2 separate regions of the Homo sapiens genome follow, and region 2 is linked to region 1. Evidence: fine-mapped expression QTL. Tissue or cell type: skeletal muscle. Region 1 holds a variant in brackets; the other region holds the start of a gene. All regions are shown on one strand. Distances are between the middles of the regions.

What was found. PIP is the estimated chance that this variant, and not a neighbour inherited with it, causes the effect.
Region 2: it holds the start of MSX1, and the variant in region 1 is fine-mapped to the expression of MSX1 in skeletal muscle (FUSION, PIP 0.95).

The regions. Positions count from the first base shown.
Region 1 is chr4:4,876,719-4,884,895 of GRCh38, forward strand. No RefSeq gene overlaps it. Among named protein-coding and RNA genes, the nearest start is that of MSX1, 21 kb to the left of the region's middle. The variant T/A (reference allele first, on the strand shown) is at 3,764.
Region 2 is chr4:4,855,184-4,863,360 of GRCh38, forward strand. It overlaps MSX1 (msh homeobox 1), which reads left to right and starts at 4,482. Exons shown (of 2, transcript NM_002448.3): 1 at 4,482-5,185; 2 at 7,518-8,177. The coding sequence starts at 4,717. The coding sequence ends at 7,960. RefSeq lists silencers at 4,304-4,363, 4,384-4,623, 4,634-5,073 and an enhancer at 7,127-7,798.

The DNA of each region.
Region 1 (8,177 bases):
TTTTTAGTAGAGACAGGATTTCTCCACGTTGGCCAGGCTGGTCTCGAACTCCTGACCTCAAGTGATCCTCCCGCCTCGGCCTCCTAAAGTGCTGGAATTACAGGCATGAGCCATCATGCCCAGCCAATGACTCATTTTGTAGATGGGGAAACAGAGGCTCAGAAAGCTTAGAGAACTTTTCTGAGGTCACACAGCTATTGAATATAACAGCCATAGTCTGAACCTTGTCTGGTTGACTTTGAGGCCTGGCTCTATACTATCCCTTGTCCTCCTAAGTCTTTTCTTTTGCTAAATGTTCCCCTTCCTCCAGTGTCCCTTACCCTGGCCCGCAAGTCCCTACAGGATGTAGCTCCCCTGCCTCTTGTGACTTCAATGACTGATGCCATTGAGTGATTCTGGCTGTCTCTCCAGCACAGTGCACACATCCCTGCCGCAGGGCCTTTGAACTTGCTGTTCCCTCTTCCTGGAACGCTGTGCCCTGGTTATTTGTGTGATTCTTTCTGTCCCTTTTTTACCTGGCTCAAGTACCTGCTCGGTGGCTCAGAGAAGCCTTTCCTGACCCCTTGCCTAAAATTGTGCTGTTGTGAGTCTTTACGATCCCTCCTCACCTTGCTTTGTTTTTCTCCATTTAAACCACTCCATGGCAGCAGAGGTCATGCTTACACGTTTGTTTATTCTTTATCTGTCCCTCACTAGGCTCTGGGCTCCGTGAGGGCAGTGGCTTCATCTGTGTAATTCCCTGATCTTCCCAGCACCAGGAACAGCGCCCAGCACGCAGTAGGACTTTGATATTTGTTAAGTGAATGAAGGATTTTTTTTTTTTTTTTTTGAGACAGAATCTTGCTCTGTCACCCAAGCTAGAGTGCAGTGGCGTGATCCCGGCTCACTGCAACCTGTGCCTCCCGGATAGGGTTCAAGCAATTCTCCTGCTTCAGCTTCCCAAGTAGCTGGGATCACAAGCACATGACACCGGGCCCAGCTAATTTTTTTATTTTTTAGTAGAGACGAGATTTCACCATGTTGTTCAGGCTGGTCTCGAACTCCTGGCCTACGTCAAGTAGGTCTGCCTGCCTCAGCCTCCCAAAGTGTTGGGATTACAGGTGTGAGCCACTGCTCCTGGCCTGAAGGATTTCTGTCCTTGTTCTGCACAATAGGAGCCTGAGGCTTGGAGGAGCCTCAGGATGGCAAACTGGGCCCTGCTGAGCTCTGAGCCCAGCTCTAGGGCCTGTCCTTCCTGCCATCAATACTCGGAGGAGGCCCCACGGAACCCAGGGAGGCCCAGGAGGCATGGAGGTGGGTGCCGAGAAGTCAGCAGCCTCACCCTTGACAGCTGGCCATGGCAGTCAAGTCCCTGGAACCTGGATTTGGGGGAAAATGATAAAGGTGAAAAAGTTGGCCCTCATTTCCATGTAGGCCTGCCAGCTCCACGAATATCTTGCTACTTACCTGTCCCGACCAGACACAGGACACTTCAAGATTCCAAGAGATGGACCGGCTCAGGGTGATGGGGCTTCCGGGGCTGGTGCTGAAGGGAAGTGCCAATCTCTGAGGACTTCCATAAGCCAGAATGTTTATTTTCTAGTTCAATCCCCACAGTGATCCAAGAAGTTGGAATCAATACCACCTCCCCTTGGCTCTGAGATGGTGTGTGAGGACCCACAATTCCCCTTCTTTTCCTTCCATTTGGGAAACTTCTCTCAATTTTCCTAAAGGTTTACGTTTTATGGTGTGAGAGGAAGTATGAACACAGGAACTGGCTGAGTCTGGGGGCTCAGGAGCCAGGAAGCTTGAGTTCAAATCCTGGCCCCTCACTCCCTGGCTGTGTGACCTTTGGTGGATTTCTGAACCCCGTTAAGTGATCACGATCAGTTTTTTCATCTGGATGATGGGCTGTAATAACTCCTGCCTCTTAGGATTGTTCTGAGGATCAAATGAGTTGATGCACGTGATGTGCTTAGAACAGTGCCAGGGACTTAGTGAGGCTGAGATAAGCTGTCTCTCGTGGGATTCAGAAGCCGGAAGCCCTGAGGGTTCTTTCCTGTCCTCCCACCCTACAGAGCCAGGGTAGGAGCAGAAAAGAGGAGGCAAGGAAACACTGGAAGAAAAGATATACAGATAGTACCCTCACCTGCTCCCTCACCTTGTAAACCTCGTCACAAACCAGTGAGCTTGACAAGGCAGGGGTGTGATTCCCTTTAGCCAGATGAGGAAGCCACAGCCCGGAAAGATGGAAGGATTTGTCCAAGATTGCACGTGAGGGATAGGCCAGAATCGGAATCAGACATTTGGATTCCGGGGCCAGTGCTATATTCTGGTCACATTTGCACATGGCACCGCTTTTCCTTGGATCTGCCTTCTGAATGGCAATGGACTGATCATGACTCAGATGAGCTAGAACCTGAAGACACGATAGGGAGTTGGACCCTGTTTTACTGCTAATCCTAGGTCAGAGCACAGCCACTGAACTCCAAGGCTTTTCTAGAAGCTTTCAGCAGGCACTATCAGTCTGTAATAGCCGTGAGATATGTATGGACAAGGAGTTCCAAGAAATCCTCAAAATGTAGGTGGACGGATGAAATTCCACTTGGACACAATTGTGGTAAAAGTCATTTAAGTAATTAGCGTCTGAGTACTTTTCTGTATATGTGGATGGGGGAAAGGAAGAGTAATTTCTGTTTGCTAAGTAACTAGCAGGTTCTCCAAGTCTGTTCCTTAATCAATTAATTAATTTTTTTTGAGACACGGTCTTGCCCTGTCGCCCAGTCTGGAGTGTGGTAGCACAATCATGGCTCACTGCAGCCTGGACTTCCCAGGCTCAGGTGATTCTCCCATCTCAGCCTCCCGAGTAGCTGAGACTACAGGCACGTGCCACCACACCTGGCTAATTGTTGTATTTTTATGTAGAGACAAGGCTTCATCATGTTACCCAGGCTGATCTTGAACTCCTGGGCTCAAGCAATCCCTCCGCCTTGGCCTCCCAAAGTGCTGGGATTACAGGCATGAGCCACTGCACCCAGCCTTGTTCCTTAATTTACTACTCACATCAATAGCTAGGGAAATGAATGTCTGGTTCCAGTTTTTCAGGGAATCCTGCAGCCCAGTGAGAATGAGTCAGTTGCTCAGGATCACACAGTTAATAAACCAGTATCTGGAATTCAAATTAAGTTCTGTGTGTCTCTAAAGCACATGCCGTTTCAATCCACTCACGCTGAGGGACCTACGCTTGCATAAGTGCCTTTTTAACACATAAATAAGCTCTAAAGGCAGTGTGGAAAGTGGTTGCAAAAATATAAATCAAATAATATGCTTAGAGGAAGAACAAAGAATGTTAACTGAAAAAAATAGCAAACAATGAACAAACTCTGAACCCTCTCTTGGTGTTGATGACTTTCACTGGAGATCATAAGGAAATAGAAACTCTTAAAACCAGTCATCGGACTTGTTAATAATGGGCTCGTAGGAGAATGCTAATGAAATGTGATGAGTTTTTTTCTTGTTAAAATCTCATTTCAAATAACTCCGTTCGTCATCCATTTTTTACAAGGAACGAAAACAAATGTTTTCCAAAGCTTCAAACCAAAATCTCTGTGTGGGTTTCTTGTTTTGAGCCAAATATTCTGTGTCTTTTCCCAGCTGGGAATTCCCTCCCCATCTTTGTTGGTCCAAGTCCTATGTGTCCTGTGGGTCCAACTCCTCCCTCCACCGTCCTCTGACAGAGAGTCAAAGTCCTGGGTTCAAATCCAGTATCCACCCCCCCTTTTTT[T/A]AATTAAAATTTATTTTTTGTTTTAATATAAACAGTTTTTAAATATATTTCCCCTGTAAAGGGATACATATGTTTATAAAGCCTGTTTCCACTTCTCCCTAGAGGTTATTTTTAAAAGTTGTTTGTAAAATTAATTTTGATTTTTTTAATTAAAGAAGTCATATATCATTTTAAAGGTCAAATGGTTTTCAACAGCATATAATGAAAAAGAGCAGCGCCACCCTGTGCCTGCCCAGACCAAATATTTTCCCCAGATGGAGCATTTTCAACCTTTAGTTATTTCTTCTGGCATTTTCTTACCTCTTTCTAAATCACCTCTCTGCACTGATAATCCTTGATTTTTTAGTATTAAATATTATTGATGGACTTTCTGTTACGAAGATGAAGATTAGCTCTTATGCTGCTTTCCCAAGTACCCTCTCACCATTCTCATAAGGGTATCATTTTTTGTTAGATCAATATTCTGTGGTTACTATTATGACCACATAAATAGTGTCCGTAGTTATGCCACATAATATGCTTTAATTACATTTCCTGTCTTGTATAACCTTTCTTTCTGGAAGTTGATAATTGCCTTTATGCTTTCTTTAGTTACCTATGTGCTTGTCATTAATTTCACCTCTTCACTCTCTCAGAAATGGAGAACTATTCTGAGCAAATTTACACACGCCAGGTAACATCCCCATTCCCTTTCTCCTCTCGGAGACACTTCTCTTGGAGAACGTTGCCCTCCTACCACTGGTTGTCCTGGAAGCCATCAAACAGCTGTCAACCCTGGACTTCCCTGCTCCGTCATCTGAGAAGTCCCCTTTGCCCATTTCCTGAGTTGGAGCCCTGATTTCCTGGGTTTCAGGCCTTCCTTTTGCTTCATTGATTTCCTTTCTTGGAGCATCTCCTTCAGTAGCTTCCTGAGAGAAGCTGCATGGAAGGTAACATTTTCAAAGTTTTGCATGTCTGAGATTGTCTTTATTCTCCTCTTACATTTCAGTGATAGTTTGCTTGGATGTAGCATTGTACCTCCTCCAACCGTGGAACCATTTCTCTGTGATCTTGTTTCCAGCTATTGATAGTCTGATGTCATTCTAATTCTTATTTTCTTTCCCTGTGGGGTTTTGGATTCTTTTCCTTATCTCTGTTGCTTGGGAATTTCATCATCCTGTGCCTTGGTGTGGTTTTATTTTGTTGTTTGTGCTGGGCCCAAGTGAATCCTTTCAATCTGGAAACCTGTGGCCTTCAGTTGCAAGAAAGTACAGGTTAAGCATCCCTAATCTTAAAATCTGAAATCGGAAATGCTCCAAGATCTGAAATGTCTTGAGAGTGGACATGATGTCACAAGTGGAAAATTCCACATCTGATCTCATGTGACATGTCACAGTCAAAATACTGGTGCACAACACATCGTTTATTTCATATCCCCAAAGGAAAAAAAGGCCTTCTCAGCCCGCTTCAGCAGTGATGTATCTTTTCCACGCACATCCAGGTTCCCTCTGCCCCTCAAGCACTCACACAGAGAATAAAATAGCACTTTCACAGGCTGAGGCACCAGTAACACATTCCCCACTATGCCCCACATGAAGCCAAGATCTACCTGCATTACTCACTTGGTTCTTTTTCTTATTCTCTGCTGTGTGGTGTAAAGTTATTGATTAAGGCCAGGAGCGGTGGCTCACACCTGTAATCCCAGCACTTTGGGAGGCTGAGGCGGGTGGATCACCTGAGGTCAGGAGGCCGAGACCAGCCTGGCCAACATGGTGGAATCTCATCTCTATTAAAAATACAAAAATTAGCTGAGTGTGGTTGCGGGCACCAGTAATCCCAGCTACTCTGGAGGCTGAGGCAGGAGAATTGCTTGAGCCTGTGAGGCGGAGGTTGCAGTGAGCCGAGATAGTGCCACTGCACTCCAGCCTGGGCAACAAGAGTGAGACTCCATCTGAAAAATAAATAAATTAATTACATTAAATAAAAATAAATAAATAAATAAAGTTATTGATTAAAATTTTAAAGGCCTGCTGATACTCCCATGGGCTAAAAAAAAAAAAAAAAAAAAGAAGTGATAAGAAAAAAAGGAAGCATTTGTGTTTATCTATAACATGGAAAGTCAAGCTGTTGGAGAAGCCGGACAGTGCTGCAGATGTAAAACATCAGATGGAAGAGCTCAGTGTTGGAATGACCATGGCACATGACCTGAAGAAACAGAAGGATGAACTGTCAAAGTACTATGCCGCAAGAAACGAACAGAAGTTAATGAAACTAGAAAAAAACTGCGTAAAGCTAAAAATGAAGATCTCAGCTGTGTACTGAGAGTGACCCCGTCAGTGTTGTATGATGGTACCCTGATCATTAAATAAGCAAGGATCAGTCAAGCTGAACAAAAAATTGAAGGAAACTGTGAATATTCAACAGGCTGGATGCAGAAATTTAAGAAAAGACAACATTAAGCTGAGCTCAGTGGCTCATGCCTGTAATCCTAACACTTTGAGAAGCTGAGGAGAAAGTGTTGCTTGAGCTCAGGAGTGTGAGTCAGCCTGGGCAACATAGTGAGACCTCGTCTATACAAAACATGTTTTTCTAAGATTTTTTATTTCCACTGTATTTTTATTTCACATCATCCCAGATTCTTTTTATCTCCTTAAAACACTGACTTACAAGATAATTTAAATATTTTTGTTAAAGCAGTTACGGTCAATGCCCCACTGTGTCTGCAATGAAAAAATACATATCCTGAATATTTGGGGATGAGATTTCTGTTTTGATTTTACTCCAGAAAAACCAATTACTATACAAAACTTTTTAAAAATTAGCCAGGTATGGTATGTGCCTATAGTCCTAGCTACTTAGGAGGCTGAGGTGGAAGGAAGGCTTGAGCCCAGCAGGTTGAAGCTGCAGTCAACCATGATTGCACCACTACAATCCAGGCCAGGTGAGAGAGTGAGACCCTGCCTGTCTCAAAGAAGAAAAGAAAAAATACCAAAATTAGCTGGGCGTAGTGGCTCTCACCTGTCGTCCTAGCTACTCAGGTGGCTGAGGCAGGAGAATCACTTAAACCTGAGAGGCGGAGGTTGCAGTGAGCCCAGATCACGCCACTGCACTTCAGCCTGGAGACAGAGCGTGACTCCTTCTGGAAAAAAACAAAAACAAACAAACAAACAAAAAAAAAAAGGAAAGAAAATAAAAGAAAATTAAAGACAGCATTAAATTCTTAAAGATTTGTGGTGATAAAACATTTGCTGATCAAGAAGCAGTGAGGAAATTCATTAATGAGTTTGCCAAGTTCATCACTGATAAAACTCTACAGACACAAGAGCAACTCTACGACACTGATGAAACATCACTGTTTTGCTGAGCTTGCCCCAGAAAGACACTGACTACAGCTGATGAGACAGCCCCTGTGGGAATGAAGGATGTCAGGGGCAGAACGACGGTGCTGGGATGTGCTAATGCAGCAGGCACGCATAAGTTTGAGCTTGCTGTGATGGGCAAACACTTGCACCCTCACTGTTTTCATGGAGTAAATTTCTTACCAGTCTAATTGTTATACTAACAAAAATGCATGCAGTACCAATTCTGATTGATTTCACAAACATTTTGTTTTTTAAAAACTCGATTTAATTTAGTTTAAAAAAATAGAGACAGGGTCTCATTATGTTGCTCAGGCTCGTCTTGAACTCCTGGGTTCAAGCAATCCTCCTGCCTCAACCTCCCAAAATGTTGAGATTACAGGTGTGAGCCACTGTGCCCGGCCTATTTCACAAACATTTTGTACCAGTGACTTGTGCTCAGGGAAGCTGAGCTAGATATGACTGCAAGATTTTCTTATTCCTTTTATTTTATTTTATTTTAATTTTTTAGAGACAAGGTGTCTCTCTGTCACCCGTGCTGAAGTGCAGTGGTGTTATCCTAGCTCACTGCAGTCTTGAACTCCTAGACTCAAGTGATCCTTCCACCTCAGCTTCTCAAGTAGCTAGGGCTACAGCTAATTTTTAAGTTTTTTGTAAAGACAAGATCTCATTATGTTGCCCAGGCTGATCTCAAACTCCTGGGCTCAAGCACTTCTCCCGCCTTGGCCTTCCAAAGTGCTGGAATTACAGGCATGAGGCACAAAACCTGGCCAGGTTTTGTTATTCCTTGACAACAGTTCTGCTCATCTTTCAGCTGAGATTCTCATAAAAAATGCTTATGCCATGTACTTTCCCCAAATGTGACTTCATTAATTCAGTCATGTGACCAGGTTATCCTTAGATCAATGAAGAGTAAATATAAAAACCCTCTCTTGAACAGCGCGCTAGCAGCAGTGAACAGTGGTGTGCGTGTGGGAGATTTTCAAGAGGAGTTGAGCGCAAAGGAGGCTGTAAACACTGTTGCCAATGCTGAGAACACAGTGACTAAAGACACAGCTGTGCATGCCTGGCACAAC
Region 2 (8,177 bases), 22 kb before region 1:
GCGCCGGGTGAAATCCACTCCACGCGGACTGTACCACCGCACAAGTTGCACCCACTTTGAGGAGGATTTAGCAAGAAGGAGGAAACATTTTCACAAAGAGTTTGTATTTTGACTTCGCTGTTAAAAGGAGGTACCAAAACTCCTGAAAAGCGCAAGTTCTGCCTAGGTCTCCGGAAAGCAGAACGCTGTTTTTCTCCAGGTCTGTGTCGTGGATCTTCAACCAGTAGCTGAAGACTCCCTGGAGTTCTCAGGGCTCGGAGTTTTTCTCTGGAACGCTGTGAAGTCCTCCCGAAGTTAGTGACTCCCAGTTTGCTGAACCTGACTCCCAGCCCCTCACTTCTAGGCGACAGAGGCCAAAAGAGTGGAGATGGCTGGGTCGGGAGGCCCCCTTCGCAGATTGGGAGACCCCGTGACAGTGCTTTCTGTCTGCCCGTCAACCCCCACCCCCTCCCCGGGACAAAATACCTCCTCTCTCTCCCCCTCCGTCGCCCTCCTGGCGATTGGTGAATTCCCACCAAAATAAATCGTTCCGGGTAATCGGTTTTCATAGCACATTCATTCTATTAAAGAGGACTGTTTGGGGCTCGCTAATTGCCGGGGGATCCCACTGAGCTGCACATTTTTAAAAAATGCACGCGGGATTCCTGGGCCGAGGTCACAAAATGCAGTGGAAAGAGAGGGAGGGAGCATAAACAAAAACCCGACGGAGGCGACAACAAATGCCGAAGTGAGAAGTCAGCCTCCAGGCTCTTCCAACCGGTGCAGCAATACCCAGATAGGGATAACCGTCTTTAGGACGGGGTCCTTCTAAAAATTAATCTTTGCACGGGAGTGGTGTATACTTAGCAACACCACCATCCCTGCCTCCATCCCCCCAACCCCCGCAAAATTTTGGGGGAAAAAAAAAACCAGCTAAACCCACCACCAGTTTAGTTGCCCAGAAAGTAGACGAAGGATAATCCATCTTCAGGATCCGAAATGCAGAGGCCCTCTACTTGGGGGCGGGGAGTGCTTTAGGATGCCTGAAAATGAGGGGAGATGGAGCGAGAGGGGAGGGGAGAGAAGTCTAGAGGATGGAAGCGGAGCGCCAGTCCCCGAGCTTTATCTGCTGGGGCCAGCCCTGCCCTTGCCAGGCATGAATTACTGCCCGGCTTTCTCGGCTGCAGCGGCAGCGCAGAGAAATGCCGGGGGTACAAACGCCTCGAGGTTAGAGCTGGCGGCGAGATAACAGGCTCAGCCCCAGGGCCTGCCTGCTCGCTGAACCCCTGGGCCGGGAAATCGGTAAAGTCCTAGACAAAAAATAACTCAGAGAAGTCTCCCTCTCACTGCCCCTGTAACTCGTGGCTTTCCTCCCGCGGGAACAAACAACGCCCTGGGAAACAGGCAGACATTTTATTTCTTTTATCTGACTCCTTTCTCTTGAGACTGCCGGCACCTTTCTTTCTCTCGCAATCCAGGGGCAGAGCAATGGGAAAGCCCCGCGCTTTTCTGACACGGAATTGAGTCTGAACCCCCTTCTCTGCCGATGCACTCTTCTCGCCTAGCAACGTTTACACGCGGTTAACCTGCCGCGCGGGGCGACAGCAGACACGAACCCAGGCCGAACCTATAAAGAAGACACCGTGGCGTTCAGACCCGGCTCGGGAAGCCGAGGGGCTGGCTGCGGGGCCGGTGCTGCGGGGCCAGGCGATTTGCTCCCCGGAGGCAGGGGCGCGACTTCAAGGGCCCGTGCGCCGGGTGCAGCCTTTGATCCGGCCGCCGCTGGCGCCTTAAAACAACATCCTAGTCTGCCTATTAGGCGCGCTGAGGAATCGTGACACATTGTTTATCCCCGCAATTAGCGATGCGGCCCTTTTCAGGCCGCCCGCCCCCGGGCCCCCCGCCCCCCCCCCCCCCCCCGCGGCGGAGTCCAGGCCTTGCTGCGCTCCTCAACTGCGACCGCCGCAAGTTCCACACTAGCCCCCGCTGCACCATGCGGCTTCGCTCTCTGAGTTCAAGCCCCCGCTCAGCCCTAAAGCAGGGGTTCTTAACTGGAGGACTCCACTTGGGACCAGAGCCCCCGAAGTTGTCTGCCCCGTTGCTTGTAATGTGTTTTTGTAGGTGTGCATTTTTCTAGGGAAGAAGTTCTTGGCTGTATCAGATTCTTAAAGAGACCTGGGAGCAAAACATTTGCAGAAGGAGGGCGAGGGCGGAACTAAGCAAAGACTCGAAAAGGCACACTGCTCGCTTTTTAAATGGCCCCAAAAGCAGATAGGCCTCTGTTTCCTCTCCCCCTTTAACCTGGCCACAAAGGGAGATTCTGGCTGGGTGCGGAGGGGGTTGTTCTGACGAGAGTTTGATTAGAACGGGAGCAATAGAAGTTCGCCGTCCTGGAATCGCTTGAACCTGGGAGGCGGAGGTTGGAGTGAACTGAGATCGCGCCATTGCACTCCAGCCTGGGCGACAAGAGCAAAACTCCGTCTCAAAGAAGAGGAAGAGGAAGAAGAAGGAGGAGGAGGAGGAGGAGATGAGGAGGAGAGGAGGAAGAGGAGGATGAGGAGGAGGAGAAAAGAGGAAGAAAAAGAGGAAGAGGAAGAAGAAGAAGAAGAGGAAGAAGAGGAAGATGCTGTTGTTCGCTGTCCTGGCTGGGCTACCAGCAAGGTATTTGCCCTACAGCCTTGCTCAGCCTCAGCGAGCTGAGCTTCAAAATTGGGTCTTAAGGTCTTCTATCCTTGTACCCTCTCGGGCAAACCTCCGGAGGCCCCGGTGCACCGCGCGTCCAGCCGGCCCAACTCGAGCTAGAAGCCCCAACCACTGCCCAGTGCCTGAGTTGCAGTCTTGGGTCCTTTAGAAACCTGGAGATGTGCGTAAAATTCAGATGCCGGTATTCCCGAACTTCCCCAGGCCTCAGCATATCTCGGCGGCCTGTGGACAGATGGGAGGCTACCAATCGCTCCGGCGTCCGCAGCCCGACCCCTGCCGCCAGACCCCGGACGTCTTCCGGATAATAAAGTTCCCGCTCTAATTCATTTTCCCTAATCTGGACGCCCCTAATCTACAGCTTTTATTGCGCCCAGTTAAAAGTCGAGGGAATTCGCTGTCCCTCCGCGCTCGGATAATTACCCCTAAATGGCCACGGCAGCCCCTTGTGTTTCCTGGAGATTAGAACCCCGCAGTCATCAATGGCAGGGCCGAGTGAGCCGCCAATCACCTCCGCTCACTCCCTGAGAGCCGCTGGCCTGGGCCGCAGGAGGAGAGGCCATAAAGCGACAGGCGCAGAAAATGGCCAAGCCCCGACCCCGCTTCAGGCAGATCTTGCATCTCCCCTGACCCCAACTCATTTTTTCTGTCTTTATTATTATTATTATTATTAACAGCAAACATTAAATCACGTTTTCTCCGAAATTGGCAAAAGAAGAGTTCTCAAGTCCCACACTAGAGTCCACCTCCAGGAACTTTCCTCTTTTCCCAGCCCCCTCCCCCAAATGTGCCTCTCCCCTCCAGGATCAGCGGCCCAGAGATAGGGACATGTCATTGTTTCCGAGGACGCGTTGTTTGAGGTCACCTTAAGGCCAGATCGGTGTTTCATTGACGATTCTGTTGGTTTTATTTCAGTAAGTTCTATATCAAAAGGATCTGGCAGCTCCTTTCCCCGCCCGGGCGCTATAGGTGTTGTGACCCTTGGGACAGAAGTTCAGAGCGAGGGTGGGGGGGGGGGAATACACATCGTGTATGAAAACCGACTGCAGATTCTAGATAATCTTACGTATTCTCACATCCTTGGCACTACAGGAAGCTAGCTTCTTCCCGCAAGGTTTACTCCAGCTCTAAGTTAGAGACAAAGGCCCACTTTTACCTCGAGGTAAAGTTTACAAGATTTCAGAACAGGAAGAAAATGAAGGTTTGGTTTTGTTTCGTTTCTTGAAAAGAAGTTAATAGTATGTCTTTCTCCTAGGATAAATAGCCATGCGTATTTTAAAAACTATATATAAAAGGAATGTGTAAGAAATAACCTCAACTCAAATTATTGTGGTAGAAGAAGAGGGGGGGTCAGACAGTGGAGGGGGGCACAGGGAAACCCAGCCACAGACTAAAGAGAAAGGTAAAAGAAGCAGTAGAGGAGAGAAACAAGGACGGGGAAAAAAAGAGGAGCGGAAAAGAGGGCTGAGGAGGGGAGGGGAGGGGAGGAGAGGAGGGCAGAAGAGAAGGAACGAGAACAAGGGAAAATCCCCCGGGAACACAGAAAGATAGAGACCCAGGGGACTCCCGCAGAGAGGGCCTCTTGGGCTTCAGCGCAGAGGAAAGTTTCCCGGGCACCCCCTCTCCTCCCCTGCCCTCCGCCGCCTGGGCCCTGCCCTGCGTGCCCCCAGGCCCAGCGCGCCTCCGGGCGAGTCCCCAGGAGCGCGGCCCAATGGATCGCTCCGGGCCCGCCCCCTCGCGCGCTGATTGGCCGCCGCCCCGCTGGCCTCGCCTTATTAGCAAGTTCTCTGGGGAGCCGCGGTAGGGCCCGGAGCCGGCGAGTGCTCCCGGGAACTCTGCCTGCGCGGCGGCAGCGACCGGAGGCCAGGCCCAGCACGCCGGAGCTGGCCTGCTGGGGAGGGGCGGGAGGCGCGCGCGGGAGGGTCCGCCCGGCCAGGGCCCCGGGCGCTCGCAGAGGCCGGCCGCGCTCCCAGCCCGCCCGGAGCCCATGCCCGGCGGCTGGCCAGTGCTGCGGCAGAAGGGGGGGCCCGGCTCTGCATGGCCCCGGCTGCTGACATGACTTCTTTGCCACTCGGTGTCAAAGTGGAGGACTCCGCCTTCGGCAAGCCGGCGGGGGGAGGCGCGGGCCAGGCCCCCAGCGCCGCCGCGGCCACGGCAGCCGCCATGGGCGCGGACGAGGAGGGGGCCAAGCCCAAAGTGTCCCCTTCGCTCCTGCCCTTCAGCGTGGAGGCGCTCATGGCCGACCACAGGAAGCCGGGGGCCAAGGAGAGCGCCCTGGCGCCCTCCGAGGGCGTGCAGGCGGCGGGTGGCTCGGCGCAGCCACTGGGCGTCCCGCCGGGGTCGCTGGGAGCCCCGGACGCGCCCTCTTCGCCGCGGCCGCTCGGCCATTTCTCGGTGGGGGGACTCCTCAAGCTGCCAGAAGATGCGCTCGTCAAAGCCGAGAGCCCCGAGAAGCCCGAGAGGACCCCGTGGATGCAGAGCCCCCGCTTCTCCCCGCCGCCGGCCAGTGAGTAGCCAGAACCCAGGCGCAGAGGGAGGGGGCCGGGTGGGGGCCGGGTGGGGTGTGGGACCCGAGGGCTCCTGGTGGCCTCCGGCGCCTGCGTACCTGCAGCCGGTGCTAGGGAGCCGTGGGCTGCAAGGCCGGGTCTTGCGCCTCCCTCCACTCCCACCCAGGAAGAAGGTTCCAGACCTCCTCGCCTTGGCCCAGAGACGCTGCGGGTGGGAGTTAACGGATAGGACACCGATGTCTGGGCACCCTGTCCTCCTGCCCCCACCAAACGACCTCAGGGGTCCATGATCCCTCATCTGATCCCAAACTCTGTTTCATCGGCTTCACCCCAGCGGATGAATGTGTGTGGTGCGGTATCTTCCCTGCACCCGGAGTTTCACTTTCTCGCAGTAGGAGCTGGTGTCCCCCAGCCCCTCTTCCCTTTCAAGTACCTCTTTGCCTAGAGGTTCCGAAGCTCCTACAGAATTCTACCTCCCCATGCCCTTTGAGTTTGAGGCAGATAGTTGGTGCTTTGGGCGGATGGATGATTCAGGGGTGGGGACATTCAGGTTCCAGTGGAGGGGGCGGGGCACCAAGTCAATTAGGGGAAGGCGCCCCCGCTAATCCTATGGGAAGCTCCCAAACGTCTAGGACTGAGCCATTAAAGTGGACTCCAGGTGCCCAAGGCGGTTCGCTCCAAGGCCTCACGGCCCCCTGGCTGCTCTACTCAGAGAACACGCTCGGAGATATTTCAGGAGCACGGGAAATTCCCAAGTTTTCCTCGTTTCCTCCGATTATTTTGCTCGGCATAATAGCAGCCAGATTTCAATGGCGTGATGCTGAGGAATGATTTTTATCTGGGGATTAAACGTCTTTGAAAGGCCAGTCCCTCCCTAAGCCTAATGGCCGGAGAAGGTGGCCCCGCTCTGGGTTGTCGCCGCTGAAGGGAGTGACGTTTCTCTCGGCGCCCGCCCCTCGGGCGGCCCGGCGGAAAGCTAGTTGGGGGCCAAGCGCTTCCCGGACTCCCGGTGGCCTCCAGCAGGGAAGAAGCGGGGTGTTAACACGAGATTTCGTTTGACTCACATCCTGGTGGTCTGAAAGTCCAAAGGATCGTTGTGTTTTCTTTGTTTTGTTTTGTTTTTTCTGTTTGTTTGTGGTTGTTTTTTAGAGAGGTGTGAAAAAATGCATACTTAGGCAAAACCCGCGTGGTGAAACATCTTCGATTTGAATTCACTTTCTGCCGGGAAAGCTGCTGCATAGGCAAAGTGTCCTTTCCAACGCTTAGGGCCTTGGGCCCCAAGACCCCGAAGTCAAAGCGATCCCGGCTGTGTTGGGATAATTTGTTCCACATTTTATCCGGGGGCAGTCCCCAGCAGACCCCATCCCCGACCTGCACTAGTCCTGCGCTCTGATGCTTCTTCACTGTCCACCCTTGAGGTTTATTTTGAAGCCAAAAGAAAAAGACAGCTGGGCATGTTGATGTCTGCTGACTATGCCACAGGTTGAGGGGAGAGGCGATCTCAACACTCCCCCCGCAACAACATCAACACACACACACACACACACACACAAACGTTTGAGTGGGGCCAGAGGGCCCTGGCGCCAGGGGTGAACGCGATCCAACAGAGGACTGAGACAATCTAAAGAAAAAGCCCATTAGAATAAAGCAGCCCCTCGTTCTCCGCTCCAGATGACACTTTCTGTTTCTAAGAGGGCTGGCCACAGTGCACCCTCCATGATGGTCTGCGCTGCTCCATCTCTGGTCTGCGGGAACTACTCCTAGAATCCCGTAGGAGCGAAGTGTTCCGGGGAAAGTGTAGAATTTGATTTGGATTCTATGCCACAAAACTGCCTAGCCCCACACTGAAGCACTCCGTGGGCACTGATAAATGTTTGGCCAACGCGTAAAACTAAATGTGCCCTTGGGCTGGGCGCAGGGCCTCTTTCTGCATGTTCGTCAACTGTATTAACATCCACCTTTCCTCTGGATGGCCCTGGGAGGAGGCCCGCCATGAAGGCCTTCCTAAGCCGCCGGGCAGCACAAAGGTGATTTCACATCTTCCCAGCTGTTTAGGCCTAAGATGTGGACATCGAGCCTTCAACGTGGGTATTTTTCTCCTGGAATCTTAGTTTCTTCATTTGCAAAAAGTAGACAGGAACTTCTCCCCTGCGGGGTTGCAATGGGAATTGGAGAAAATATATTTCAAGTGCCTTGCGCGATGCCCGGCACCGAGGCACTTGGCGGCACTCAATATCTGGTATTGTTTGGCTATTATTACTACTTCTTGGGCTGATCATGCTCCAATGCTTCTCTCTTAACCCCTTGCTTTTTTTTTCTTTCGGCCCTCAGGGCGGCTGAGCCCCCCAGCCTGCACCCTCCGCAAACACAAGACGAACCGTAAGCCGCGGACGCCCTTCACCACCGCGCAGCTGCTGGCGCTGGAGCGCAAGTTCCGCCAGAAGCAGTACCTGTCCATCGCCGAGCGCGCGGAGTTCTCCAGCTCGCTCAGCCTCACTGAGACGCAGGTGAAGATATGGTTCCAGAACCGCCGCGCCAAGGCAAAGAGACTACAAGAGGCAGAGCTGGAGAAGCTGAAGATGGCCGCCAAGCCCATGCTGCCACCGGCTGCCTTCGGCCTCTCCTTCCCTCTCGGCGGCCCCGCAGCTGTAGCGGCCGCGGCGGGTGCCTCGCTCTACGGTGCCTCTGGCCCCTTCCAGCGCGCCGCGCTGCCTGTGGCGCCCGTGGGACTCTACACGGCCCATGTGGGCTACAGCATGTACCACCTGACATAGAGGGTCCCAGGTCGCCCACCTGTGGGCCAGCCGATTCCTCCAGCCCTGGTGCTGTACCCCCGACGTGCTCCCCTGCTCGGCACCGCCAGCCGCCTTCCCTTTAACCCTCACACTGCTCCAGTTTCACCTCTTTGCTCCCTGAGTTCACTCTCCGAAGTCTGATCCCTGCCAAAAAGTGGCTGGAAGAGTCCCTTAGTACTCTTCTAGCATTTAGATC